4 linked regions of the Homo sapiens genome follow. The protein of the gene in region 2 interacts with the protein of the main gene of each other region in a pairwise test. Each region holds a gene or a part of one and is shown on either strand. Other genes may lie near its edges.

Region 1 (4,164 bases), on a different chromosome or scaffold from region 2:
TGGCTGGTGTTATTACTTTACCAACTTGGTTTAGCCATTTTAAATTCTGTCATCTCTTTTTGAACCACAAAAACCAACTATTCTGAGAAACAGAAAATTTCATATTACTATTTTACTCTGTGTAATCCAAATAAGTATTCTAGGGTTTAGAATATTGTTCCTAACTTTCTAAGACATGCAATACTTCTAAGAAACAGACAGGAATATAGACATAACTACAATGCTGATATTATTTCTTGTTTGTGTTCTGGCAGTCCTACATTAATTCCTGTAAGTTCCTCAATCTGGTCAGGTCTTCACAGCCAAAATAAGTCACAGTTAACATTATTTCTTTAGAAAAGCAAGTAAAAGAAAATATGCTTTCCTGAATTATCTAAGCAAAATTTTGTTTAGCTATTTTTTGCCAAAATATTCTCAATGTCAGTGGGTTTGTGATTTATGCTCTAAGTCAAAATGACTTTCCTTAAAACAGAACAATTATCTCCAATTCAATAATTTAATAATTTTTTTTTCAAAATGGTTCACCTATATTATTGAAATTTAAAATCTTAAAAAAAGTTTATTCATAAGAGGATAATAAATCACTAAGTATGTAGTCAATGCATACGGGAGAAAATGTGCTGCAGCCCAAACGCAAATGATTCCCCACTATATACTGATTAAAATGTTTCATATATGGGTTTGACTTTTATAAGGAGGTGCTCTTGGGTATGTGTGAGATGGCCAATTATTTAATTTTTAAAAATCAATAATTGTAATTCTGGAAGGAAGAAGACCAACCACAGTCAATGCCAGATGTAGTATCACTTGAAATCCAGGTTCTTAAACTAAAAGAAACAATTAAAATGTGAAAGTATTGTGGCTATTTTTCATTTCAACAGCAGTTTTAAGTTTAAATAGATAGGATAAGTTGAATAAGAATACAATTAATATTTTTAAAAATTCTTCTATATTTCTTTATAAACAAAAAAAGATTATTTAAAAAGATATGAATACTTTTTTCAAGCTTTATGAGTGATGACTCTACATCCTTCTCTGCATTTCTTTTTTATTTTATTTTATTTTATTTTATTTTATTTTATTTTATTTTTATTATACTTTAAGTTTTAGGGTACATGTGCACATTGTGCAGGTTAGTTACATATGTATACATGTGCCATGCTGGTGCACTGCACCCACTAACTCGTCATCTAGCATTAGGTATATCTCCCAATGCTATCCCTCCCCACTCCCCCCACCCCACCACAGACTGACCCAAAGGTGACCCTGCTATCATCATCTTATTGGGTAAAAAGTAGGAGGGAAATAGAATAGCGTGACTCAAGGTACTAATACCCTTTAATTGGTCTTCAGTTATTTTTCTTGGGTCTTCTCTACAGCTGACAGGCCAACTCAACCTACTGCCAACCAAGACCTGACTGGCACGAGGAAAGGTAATGCTGCTGAAACACTTGGAGAAAGTGATCCTTTTCACAGTAGTTAGTTGGGACATCACCATAGTTATTTCAGAATCACATTTTCTTCCTTTTAGTTATTGTTAAGTTTGAATATGACCTAGCATCACTTTAAAATTAATTTCTAACCTAAACCTAAGTTCTGGATGGTGTTATGTTCAAATTTATTTTTAACTTTACTTTGGGTTCCAGTCAAATTCTGATACCAACTAAATCATAGCAGCCATTGTGAATTCCGAACAAGAAGGCGTTTAACGTATTCCTACAGACAAATGTTGAGAGTTAACTCCACAGGAAGTTGGGCTCATGATAATAATCGCAATTAACCCCTTAATTACTTTCAAATTTTATTTCTATAAAAGTCATAATTTTATTTGTTATGGAATAATTATTTTTTTAAAACATGTTTTTCAAATATTCATGAAAGCTGGATAATTCTACCATTTCACGAATTATTTCTTCTTACCAAGTGATGAGGGCAAATGCAAATGTAGCTGATGCGCAAAGTATGGTCTTATCTCTGTGATTTTTGTTTGTGCCAAAAGGAAATTACTATCATTTTATAGAATATTTTCTTTTGTTTACATATCATTTTACTGTGTGAACTGATAAGGGGTCTGTGATTCATCATAAAAACATTTTCAGTCTATAATCCTAAAAGATCACTAGCAAGTGAAGCATTAATAAGGAGCTTCATCCCACTTAAAGAAATATGAGTGTGCTTAGATTGTTCAAATTGATTCCAAATGAGTTCCATCGAATGGAAATTTGATGACATCGTATGGGCAGTTTTGAAGTCACTTTAGTAGACAGCCTTCCTAATCATTATTGCCTGAGAATCAGACGCTAATGGAGTCCAGTGGGCTTTCCATCCCCTATCTGAGGCTTTAATTCTGTGAATCTTTTTTGCGAAGTTCAACTTTGTAGTGATTCAAGTTTATATGAGTGTGTCAATAACAATAGCTGCAACAAGATGAAGTTAGTAATTACTTCCTAAACATAATATATACTTAAATATAAAAAGTTTGGGGTATCATATATTATTAGTCTAAAAAGATGATTTATTAAAAATCAAATAAGCAAGTATGACACTGTATATACTCTTTTAGAAAAATAAGGCTAATGTATTTCTTTAAATATTTTAGTCAAAGCCACTGTAATTGTCATCTCTATACTTCTTATTAAAACAATCAAGTTAATCATATCAGTTATGATTACTGGAGAAGTATGTTATAAAGAAAACAGTCTCATAACCCTCCACTTCCCATTCCATCCTACATACTTCTGTTGGATTGATCATGGAATTATAGAATTTTAGAAATCTCTAAGTTCAAACCCTGGTTTTACAGGTAAGAAAATGTAAAGCCCAGGAAAGGGAAATCACTTGATCAAAGTTACAGAGGTAGAGATAAGGCCTGGTCTAGAATTCAGTCCTCCAAAAAATGTATAGTCATACACTTTCTAGTCCAAAAACACTCAATTGTTTTCTGTTGTTTATAAAGCCATGCCTAGCTTTTTAACCCATCATTATCTTAAAGGTGTCTACTTTTTCTGCTCTAAACTTTCCTTCCAATCTTATATTTCCCTTCTCATACAAGATTCCAATCAAATGTTCATGGCGATTCTCAAGACTTTCTCCTCTACTTGAAATATTTCTCTCCCTGTTAAATACTGCATAGGCAAGCCTCATCTATATGTCATTTTTTCCACACAAAGACTGCTGCTTCTCTTAACTGAAACTTTTATTAATAGAAAACCACTTTTGTGGCATTTTCTACTTTTTTTCCCTCTTACAGTTGTTTTTCAGTATATGTTTCAACACTCTTCCTAAAATTGATGCTACTCATTGGCAAGGCCTGTATCATATTTACATTGATAATCTCAACATTTGACATAGTAATGATAATTTGATAATTCCGTTAATATTGTCAAAAATTAAATTCAGAAATTTTTACTCCAAGTTTGAGTTTTTACATTCTTTTGTTAAAATAAATTTTTCACATCGGCTAAATCTACCTGTAAATCTGGCTTTTTTTCTTAATCAAGGAAACATTGTATTCAAGTCACTCCTAAATTTCTAGTAACAAATTCTTTTAAATTAATTTTTTTTTAAATTTATCTTTAGGTGCAATAATGAAGAGTTTTCTTCTAGTTGTCAATGCCCTGGCATTAACCCTGCCTTTTTTGGTAAGTTAATTTCATCTAACCAGATTGTACTGACTTTAAGAAAATTTTGTTTAAGGGCTTTAACTATGCAAACTTCTAAATACAATTATGCTTCATAGAACAAAATATCCACATAGTTGTTACATTTTTAAGGTTAATTTTTTTAATATTTATTTCTATTATGAAATCAAAGTCATGTTCTTTTGGATATCCATTTAGTTCTGTGAATTAAGAAATCACACTTAATCATGTACAGGAAACTTTTAAAATTCTCATGCTATAGAGAAAATACATTCAGGGGAAAAACAATACTGAAAACATTTTAAAATTGTAAATGCATTAAGGATAATTCAGAAAGAATAAATACAGAAATCATAGTCTGGGAATCAGAAATTATTTTAATTAAGTTCCTGTCTCACCCAGACTCCAATCTCTTTATGGAAACAAAATCCTTCAAAGGTCAACTTTGGTTAAGCTTTTTCACAAGTTTCAAAGACCTTGATACTTCTGCCTTTAATATTTGAATCATTAACTTTTGTTATAT
Region 2 (3,500 bases):
GAGGAGCACCTGGGACAGCTTTCATGGTCTGGGACAGGACGATGCCCACAGGCTGGGCAGGGGGCTGAGTGGGTGGAAGAGAGCAGGCAATGGAAGGAGCTTTCCCTGGTAGTTTAGGGTTTGGCCAAGAGTAGGGCAGCAATGACCTGGATAATGGCCTGGAGGATCCCTTCTGGATCCTTCCTGACTCATTGGAAAGCATTACATCCCCCCACACTGGCAGGGCTGAGGGCCGGTTCTGGGCATGAGAGCTCTCAGTGAACCCGGCTGGGCCAGCGATGATAGCGGCTGGGTGGGGAGGGTGGGGGAACACTCACTTGAGGAAGGCGTCCTGGCTGTTCAGGAAGGGGAAGAAGGAGGGCTCACAGATTAGCCCGTGGTCCAGGCAGGTGTCGGTGCAGGCCCTCCCAGGCACGGCCAGCCAGGCCCGCAGGGCGTGCGCGGGGGGCCAGGCCCCAGGAGCCAAGCTGGTGTTCCGAGCCCACTCGAGGTGGGTGGCATTGGGGGCCAGGACAAAGGGGCTCTGCGGGGCGTGGGCCTCTGGTAGGGCAGGGTCTGGAGCTCTGCAGAAGTCCTGCAAGGAGGAGAGCAGTGTCAGGGTGGGGAAGTGCGACCCAGGTGTGCCTGGGAGACACCTGAAGGTGTGGCCCTGCCGTGCCAGTACGAGCCACCACTACTGGGCGCTTACTGAATACCAGGTAGCTTTACCTGCATTATTTCATTTACTTCTCATGGACACTCGTGTCTCCAGATCGCTTACAGGAATTATGGAGGCTCAGAGGTCACGGCATCCGCCCAGGGCCTTGGGGTTGGATGGCAGAACAGGACTTGGATTCAGGGCCCTCTGCATCCTGTGTGCCCTGGAGCTGCCTCGATGCTCAGGTCAGGCTGGGGTTCCTACCCTGGGGCCCACGAGCCCTGCCCTCCATGGGGACAGGGCCCCAGGCTGGCTGTGAGGCTCTCCCTGCAGGGTTCAACTCCAGGGGCCGGAGGGCCCCGCGAATGCTTTTCTGTGAGCTTCCAGTCTGGGTCCAGTCCTGGGTTCTGGCCACGGCCCTGACCCTCACCCCCTCACCTGAATACACTCTCCCTTCTGGGGGTTTCAGTATTCCCATCTGTAAAGGGACAGGGGAGAACCAGACTCTCTCAGCCCCTAATATTGGTGGGGCCAACAAGATGGAAAGGGAGGTCACGTACTATCTGTGGAAATTTCTTACAGCCATACGGCCACCTGCCCCAGGGCCCTGAGCCCAAGGCCCACCCCAGGCATCACCCTGGACACCCGGGGCCTGCAGAGCCACGCTCCATCTGGGCCACCTGCAGCCCTCATGGTGGCTCAGATCCACCAGGATGCAGTGGAGGGCCAGGACTCCCCAGGAATAGGGCACGCCCTCCTCCTCACCCACGACTTCCAGGCACTCTGAGCACCCGTGGGAGGAGAAGGAGTGTACTCCTTGGACAGGTGCCTGCCCAGGCGCTCCCTCGGGGGCTGAGGTGGCCGAGTTTTTGAAACCGTGGGGCTGTCCCCTGGTTTCTCAGGGCAGAGATCCTAATCTCCCATTCCAGTCTCACTGCCATCCTTAGCAGGTGGGCGGAGAGTCTGGGGATCTTCACTTCCCATTCAGTTACCAAATCCCAATCAGTTAGCAGACTTTCGAACCACTGTTTTCTAAGAACGGAAGTCTTTGTGTTTCTGTTAGTGCCGTGGAGTTGGGCTCTAAGGCTGGGCCCAGACAGCAGGAGTGCCCGGAGTGTGCTGCTTTCCAGGCCCGCAGTCAGGCCTGCCTGTCTCCAGCCCTGAGGGAACTCTGGGAAGAGACTGGACAGGCTGGAGGAGGGAGCAGGGAGTTGGATGGTTTCACGGGTGCAGGGCCCTGGGCAGACAATGAAGCTGGCTCAGCCCCCTCCTCTGGTCTGACAGGATCTGGGGCAGGGACCAGAGGGCTCACTGACCTGGTGCTGGATGTAGGCGTGGATCCGCTCCAGCATCCCCTCGCAGGTGTACTCGTAGGGTAGGTAGGGGTCTACCTGTGGGAGGGATGGGCAGACACATGGGGCGGGAGAAGGCCCAGCCGTCGGGGGCCCTGCCATGCTCGGCATTGGGGGTGGAGGTCTGGTGGGCTCTCACATCCTGTGCCATGCCCAGGGAGCCGACCACCCCATCCACCTGGCCCTTCCACCCAGCTCAGAGTCCCCGTTCCCCGCACACCCTCCAGTAGCCCTCCGGGACTCAGGCTCAGGACCCACAAGGCCCAGCCTCATCCCTCCCCACCCCCTCCCAGGTCCCTGTCCCAACTGCAATGAGGATAAAGCTCAGCGCTGTGTCCCCTACTGGGCTTTGACACCTCCTCTTCCCACAGCCCACCCACCCTCTTAGGCATCACCTGCTCCAGGGAGCTTTCCCTGAGCCCCACCCCCACTCCTGTTACAGGAACACTTTCCTTGGTGACTCCCAGCACCCCAGACTTCCCCCAGCACAGAATGAGCCCCTGTGTTATTGTCTCCTGTGTATTCGTCATGTCTCTCATAAACTTATGGACACCTTGAGGGTGGGGACTATGGCTTGTTCACACTGAATCTCCAGTGCCTGGCACAGTGCCTGGCATACAGTGGGTGCTCAGGAAATAGTCATGGAATGAAAAGGCATCCCCAGCTCTGCCTGTATCCTGCCCAAGACATGGGACATTCATGCAGAGGAACACAGGGGCATCTCCCAGTCAGCGGGAATGAGATGACATTTGTAAAGTACCCTGCCCCCACAGGCACAAACCCCCAAACAGAGGCCACAGGTTGTCTGTCTAAATATCTAATAGTTAGCCCGGCACGGTGGCTCATGCCTGTAATCCCAGCACTTTGGGAGGCCGAGGTGGGCGGATCGCCTGAGGTCAGGAGTTCAAGACCAGCCTGGCCAACGTGGTGAAACCCGGCTCTACTAATACAAAAAAAATTAGCTAGGCGTGGTGGCAGGTGCCTGTAATCCCAGCTACTTGGGAGGCTGAGGCAGGAGAATCACTTGAACCTGGGAGGTGGAGGTTGCAGTGAGCTGAGACTGCACCATTGCACTCCAGCCTGGGCAACAGAGTGAGACTTTGTCTCAAAAATAAATAAATAAATAAATATCTAATAGTCACACAGCAACCTGTCCTGTGGGCAGATGCATGCAGTAGCTTGGGTAAAAGAAACCAGGGGAGTGGAGGGAAGAGTGACAGAGGAGTAAGGGGGTACTCCTGCCTCCCCCCGACTTCTTAACCAACCAACCCCTTCCTGTTCCATTAACCTTCTCAGGCCCAGTGCAGAGCCACCGTGGAGAAAATCACTGACCTGAAAGGGCAGGGGCAGCAGTCAGGACTCAGGAAGGAGCCATCCCGGACTCAGAGAAAGGTCTGTTTTAGGCTTCAACCTCCCCACCCCACCATGCCTGGTGGCACCTGACCTGGCCCAGCCCATCTCCTAATGAGGCCGCTTTCCCGTCTTTAGCCAGTGGGTGAAATCTAACTGTT
Region 3 (3,500 bases), on a different chromosome or scaffold from region 2:
GTATAATGCCTTTCTAGAGGGTCTTCATTAATTCTTCAGGGAATGAGTTCTCATTCTTGTAGGCTTGGATTCATTACCATAAGAGCACGTTGTTATAAAGCGAGAACCCCCTCCCTTGTGCTTTGTCTTTTTTGCACATGCTAAATTTCCCTTTCACTTTCCAGCATGTTATGATGCAGCACAAAAGCCCTTGCCAGACACTACTGCCATCCCCTTGAACTCTCCAGCCTCCAGAAATATGAGCCAAATACATTTCTTTTCTTTATAAATGCCTAGCCTCAAGTATTCTGTTATAGCAGAATACTTACATTTACTCTATAAATGCACATTTATCTTAAATGTCTAGTATCTCCAATATATACAACTTCAAAACCCTACAGAACAAAGGCTATTACCGAGGGCTCAGTACCTGCTCTTGAGATGCTTCACACTGTAGCAGTCTCAAAAATAAGGTTTTTCAACTGAGAGATTTTGATCAACATGATGGTAAAGGCTAACCGCGTCAGTTTTGGTCTGATAACACTTTACAGAGTCATCTGGATACAAGTGTATCTTTAGTTGGCAATTCTATTTCTCATTTTTGTGAGCCCTACTTCAACTCTAAGAGTTGGCAGATTTAAATAGGGGACACTCAGTTGTGAAGGACAAATTCTCATGATTACTACATTCTTAATGCTTACAACAGACTTATTGTCAGAAACAGCAAGTAGTTTTGCTTTCCTTAAATATCAATTACTTTCTATTTACTATATATCTTGCCTATCTCCATAAAACATCCAAGAGTTGTTTGGCTAGAAGTATAACTTGTCACATAGAAAGCAAAATTAAGTTTACAGGAATGCTTAAGAAGAGAAGCAAAACAAAAATAAAATTACTAACACTTCCCTTATTTCCTCTAAGGAGCAACTTACCCCTCATTACAAATAAAGTGCATCTGATAACCAAACTCGTAAGTCCCATTTGCAGGGACTGCTTGGCCATTTAAAGGATCCCGTATATATGGACATGTTTCTCCTGAAAGAAAATAATTTTGATAGTTTTCAATCCAGTTATAAAACAGATCTGAATCAAAATCAAAATTCTGCAGTGCTCTTTTGAATGGGTGGGAATATAATTTTCATTATTTACTTATTATAAGGGCAAACTTAAGATTCATATTCACCCAGGCAATCTATTGCCAGGAAAATGATTTCTTGGAGATTTTGATTTCTCAAAGCTTGCAAAAATGCATTGTTATCTTGAACCTCATTTTACAAGAAGAAAATCATCATCACCGTAGTGGAATATGTACCCCAAAATGTATGCAAATCTCTAGAGCAAGCAGAAAAAAAAAAGAGGTTTGTTTACTTACTATAACAGGCGTCATCTGAGACAGGTAGCCATGTATGATTCCGATCACAAATAGTATGGGTGGCAAGAGGAGGTATATAGAAGTATCCTTTTTTACACTTATAATCTACTCGTTCACCAATCTCATAGTAGGGTTTTGGTTTACCAATGAGCTCCATAGCTTCAAATGTTGGTGGCTCCTCACAGGCATCTAGGGATAAGAGAATAGGAACATGAAGATGAAGTACTGATATCACTTTCATCAGCCATGGACTGTGGTCTGGCAGCAGGTAGTACAGAAAAAACAGAAAGGCCCTTGGCAAGATTTTAAATGACTGTTCCATGCTTTTACCTGAGTGCTCATAGCAGTGGAGGAAATGGGACTTGCATGTTTTAAGTAACATCCTATTAGCTTTTGGTTTGTTTGGGAATAAACATTCGACAATAAACTGAAGAGACAGCATTAATGTCTTTGATCTTAAAATATATATGGATGCATCTTTCCCCACATTTTTCTAAATTCATTTCAAAAGTAACTTCTCCTCTAAGAAGTCTTCTACAGTATAGAGTACTCTGCTCAGATTGTTCTTCCATAGTTTAAAACACTAACTTATAACAGCTTGTCACTTCAGGGTGTCTTCTCTTAAAAGGCAAGTTCCTGGGGGTCAAGAACCATGTTCTTCTTTTTCTACTATACTCACCTTGTGGGTGCACAAGAAATGCTGACACTGACAAACTCTATCTGCAAATAAGTATTCAAGAAATTGTCTGCTACCGTGCCTGGGAAAATCAAAACAACCCTAGTTTGGATTCATGTTGTGCTAAGTCAAACAAAAGGCTCAAGTTGCCCTAAAAGGACAGGTAATAACGTGAAAGTCTGAATTTATGATGGTGAGTGTTTACTCCTGATGAGTCTGTTGCTTTTCAGAATTACTCACCCTGTGATTTAATCCTCTTCCTTCTTTCTTGCCTCCTTTGCCCTACTCTGCCACACTGAATAGCTTGGCAGTCCAGTAGTGTCACATCTTGGTGCCTTTGCTCACCTTGCTTCCTCTGCTCTGAATACCCTTCCTCCCTGGCTGGTAGCTACAACTCCTGCTCAACTCATCTTCCTTAATCCACCCATCATCTCCTCCAGGAAGCATTTTCTGCCTCCCCCTGGGAAGCAGTGATCAGTCACCTTCCCCTGGACTCTCCCCTGCATGGATCTCTCAGGTAACTATCACATGCTTTTGTGTTTAATAGTTAACAAGGCCAACTCCATTCATCCATGTGGCCACAACACCCAGCACAATATGTCACTCAGAGTAGCTATTCAAAAAAAATTTGGTATTCAAAATCCACTGCTGTCAAACACAAAACAATGTGAAGAATATATTGTAATCAATTTCATATTGAAAATAATCATTCTACAGCACAATGGAGAAAGAAGATTAGGCCATTTCTTGTGCTGCCTATCTCCCAGTCTTCTGGTATCCTGGCAGGTGACCAGATATGGACTGCTCTCTTTGCATTGTAGTATGCCCAGTAAGGAAACTGAGACGCTACTGTGTAAGTGCTTACTGATCTTGGCTTCTTTCACTGGAAATAAGGAAAACACCTAAAATAGGCAGAAGAGACCACGCACAACAGGAGATTGCGGGTTTTGTCCAAAAAAGCAGCTCCTCTTCTGGAGGAATGAGACTGGCCTGAAATTTGATACATGTTTCCTTCAACTATCTGGAACCATTTGGCAACTACCTTTGAGAGGGCAGGTCTCCCATGCACAGCACTGTCTGCTTACGAAACCTTCTCCTTGTGAGAGTGAGTTGCTCCAAAAATTGAATGTTTATTTTAATTCACGTATTCTCTCTGCCTAGCATCGTGACTTCTCATTTTTACTTTCTCTAGGTTTCATACCTGTCTTGATTTACCCTTATGAACCTCAAACTTAACCTTGCTTTTCCTTCTCTTCATTCTTAGTTTTGTTATTTTCCATGTTGCACCCTATTCATTTCATAATTCTATGTTCCTCTATTTCAAATCGCTTTCATTATCTTCTTCAGCTTCCTATTTTGTTTCTTTTTTTGTTTGTTTGTGTGTGTATGTGTGTGTGTTTTGTTTTGTTTTGAGACAGGGTCTCTTGCTCTGTTATCCAAGCTGGAGTATGATCAGGGCTCACTGCAGCCTTG
Region 4 (2,245 bases), on a different chromosome or scaffold from region 2:
CATTTTCTCTCTCACTGAACTCAGGTGGAGAGTCTGCCAAAAGGGGTGAATAGTGGCTGCTGTAAATAATCCCGGTTTTTTGGTGTGTGCCACTGAAGCATACGGCAGCAGGCTGCCTGTCACCACCTTGATCCAGAGAGGGGAGAACAACGTATGTCCCATACACATCATAAAATGGTATGGAGACCCACAGGGAAGGCTGAATTTCACAATGGTCAGTGTGTCCCAGAGCCAGTCTTCAAGCTGGTCCCCGGCTCCTTCTCTGCAAAGCAGGAACCCGTCTTCTTAGCAGACAAATCATGGTACACACCCTGAGAATAGAATTCTGACCAAGAAGAGGTAATATCCAGAATATCTGAGCAGAACAAAACAAAGGCTTACATGCACAGTTTGAGGCCCTTCTCCTCCAGGGTGCTGTGAGCCCATATGGCACCTTTGCAAATTAGGAAAGGCACCCCTTCTTCTTGGGAGAAGTAGCCCCACACCAGGGCACGCACACAGCTTAGTGAGCAGAACACAAGCTGAATTCCAGCCTCCATTAGCTGCAGGTGCCCTTGTGCAGTGAACAACCTGCACAACTGTACATCCAGAAGATCAATGTCTCCTTCAATAGTACTGAAGACCTCCTCTCCTCAGAACTGGAAGACTTGGGCTTGTTCAGATTTGTGAGTCTACTCTAGACTCCTCCTATTTCCTTGGGTAGCCCTGAGGTCTTCTTTGTCCAGGGAAGCCGTCTTTCCTTTGGGCCTTACTTCACTGTTAGCACCAATGTTGTCTTTTCTCACATATGCAAAAGTTATAATTTAGTTTCTAGCGTCTGGTTAACAGATTCCCTGTGCCTGCTATCGGAGCTGCCACACCGGCTGCTTTAGATCCTCTCCATAAGTGCCGCAGCAGGGAGAGAAGGGAAGACGTGCACAGGCAGCTGTGATCCTGCTGGGTTCCAGAGCATGCCCTTCTGGCCTAGCTGGAAGCTGGAGGAAGATAGGAAATGTGTACCCAGCTTTGACGGTTCCCCACTCTAATCGTTATCTGTTACTCTAAAAGTCACTTAGCTGGCAAAGCCACTGTCCTGGCTTCTTCTGTATCCCACTAGGTATGAAAAAGGACTGGGGATAAGGGGGAAGAGGTATGTTGTTTCCAAGGAAACCAAGGGGTCTGGGGTCCCCTACGGCTGACTCTCATGGTAGGGTGGCCACCATATTTTCCGGCCCCACTGCAAACTTGCCCCCGATGTCCCTCAGTGCCGATGTTGGGGGTGGAATGCGGTCTGTCGGTGGGGTCTTTTGAAAGAAGAGCTGACAAAGGCACAGGCTGCCAGCAGCAACATGCTGACTGGCTATTCGGCTCATCCGTGGCTGACACCCAGCTGGTCCCAGGCCGCCAGTGGTGGCAGTGGCTCTGTACCTCAGGACCAATCCTGGGGCCTCCAAGTGGGACCAAGTCAGTTTTGAGGCCTAGCCAGAAGTTTGGTTCATTTTGCGACATGTTTGAGGGGTCCTTAGAGAAACTCAACCCTCCCTGAGGTCTGCTGGAGGTGGCAGGAGCTGGCCAGGAATCCTTGAGCCCATGGGGCAGGTACTGGCTGAGAAGTAAGAACCCAGTCAGATGTGGAGCTGGCCGGCCAGCCTAGTGAAGCTGCTATCCTCAAGTGGAAAGCCCCTGGCCGAAGCCCTGCTGGGTTAAAGCAATGTGACCATCAGGATCACGGCCCCCATCCACAGTGGAAGGCTCATAGGTTTGGTGGAACTGGGAGTCTAATCCACTCTCGATTTCTTAACTGAGTTCCTCTGGAAAAACCACAGTCCACTTCCCAGAGAACATCACTAACGGATCATCTTCGACAACTGGTAGATTCCTCAGTCGAAGAATCTACTTGTCAGAGCCCTTGGGAATTCTCACCATCACAGACACATCAGCCTCTCCTTCAACAGTGTTTGACAAAGGCCCCCATTCCAGGTCAAGGGCCTGACAGAGAAAGAAGGTCCCGCTTGAGTATGTTGTATGTACACTCAGAGAGAAATTAAAAAAAATTAAAACACAAAATAACAACAAAAAAACAATTTCACAAGACACAGTGTCAGTCCTGCCCGATGTCCTTCCTGTTCCAGACGGTGTTCCTGGTGCCCCATGTGAAGAGGGCAGCCCACCCTCACCTAGGGCCTGCCCCGTTCCTGTTCTCTTCTCCATTCAAAGCAAGGTTGTGCAGGAAGAGGAGGATCTGCCACCACACACGATTTTGGTT

What was found. Proteins that work in one complex are often made in the same cells at the same time.
Region 1: the proteins of MGAT5B (region 2) and CSN3 interact in a two-hybrid assay, tested with the Homo sapiens proteins (one large-scale study listed by BioGRID).
Region 3: the proteins of MGAT5B (region 2) and CD46 interact in a two-hybrid assay, tested with the Homo sapiens proteins (one large-scale study listed by BioGRID).
Region 4: the proteins of MGAT5B (region 2) and BMF interact in a two-hybrid assay, tested with the Homo sapiens proteins (one large-scale study listed by BioGRID).

The regions. Positions count from the first base shown.
Region 1 is NC_000004.12:70,241,233-70,245,396, forward strand, and holds the start of CSN3 (kappa-casein precursor), read left to right. Parts: upstream 1-1,364; 5' UTR 1,365-1,433; intron 1,434-3,579; 5' UTR 3,580-3,587; coding exon 3,588-3,641; intron 3,642-4,164. UniProt on the Homo sapiens protein: Kappa-casein stabilizes micelle formation, preventing casein precipitation in milk.
Region 2 is NC_000017.11:76,944,904-76,948,403, reverse strand, and holds part of MGAT5B (alpha-1,6-mannosylglycoprotein 6-beta-N-acetylglucosaminyltransferase B), read right to left. Parts: exon of another isoform or gene 3,147-3,500; intron 2,029-3,146; coding exon 1,954-2,028; intron 575-1,953; coding exon 318-574; intron 1-317. UniProt on the Homo sapiens protein: Glycosyltransferase that acts on alpha-linked mannose of N-glycans and O-mannosyl glycans.
Region 3 is NC_000001.11:207,755,054-207,758,553, reverse strand, and holds part of CD46 (membrane cofactor protein isoform 3 precursor), read right to left. Parts: intron 1,541-3,500; coding exon 1,352-1,540; intron 1,015-1,351; coding exon 912-1,014; intron 1-911. UniProt on the Homo sapiens protein: Acts as a cofactor for complement factor I, a serine protease which protects autologous cells against complement-mediated injury by cleaving C3b and C4b deposited on host tissue.
Region 4 is NC_000015.10:40,089,635-40,091,879, forward strand, and holds part of BMF (bcl-2-modifying factor), read right to left. Parts: coding exon 2,153-2,245; 3' UTR 1-2,152. UniProt on the Homo sapiens protein: May play a role in apoptosis. Isoform 1 seems to be the main initiator.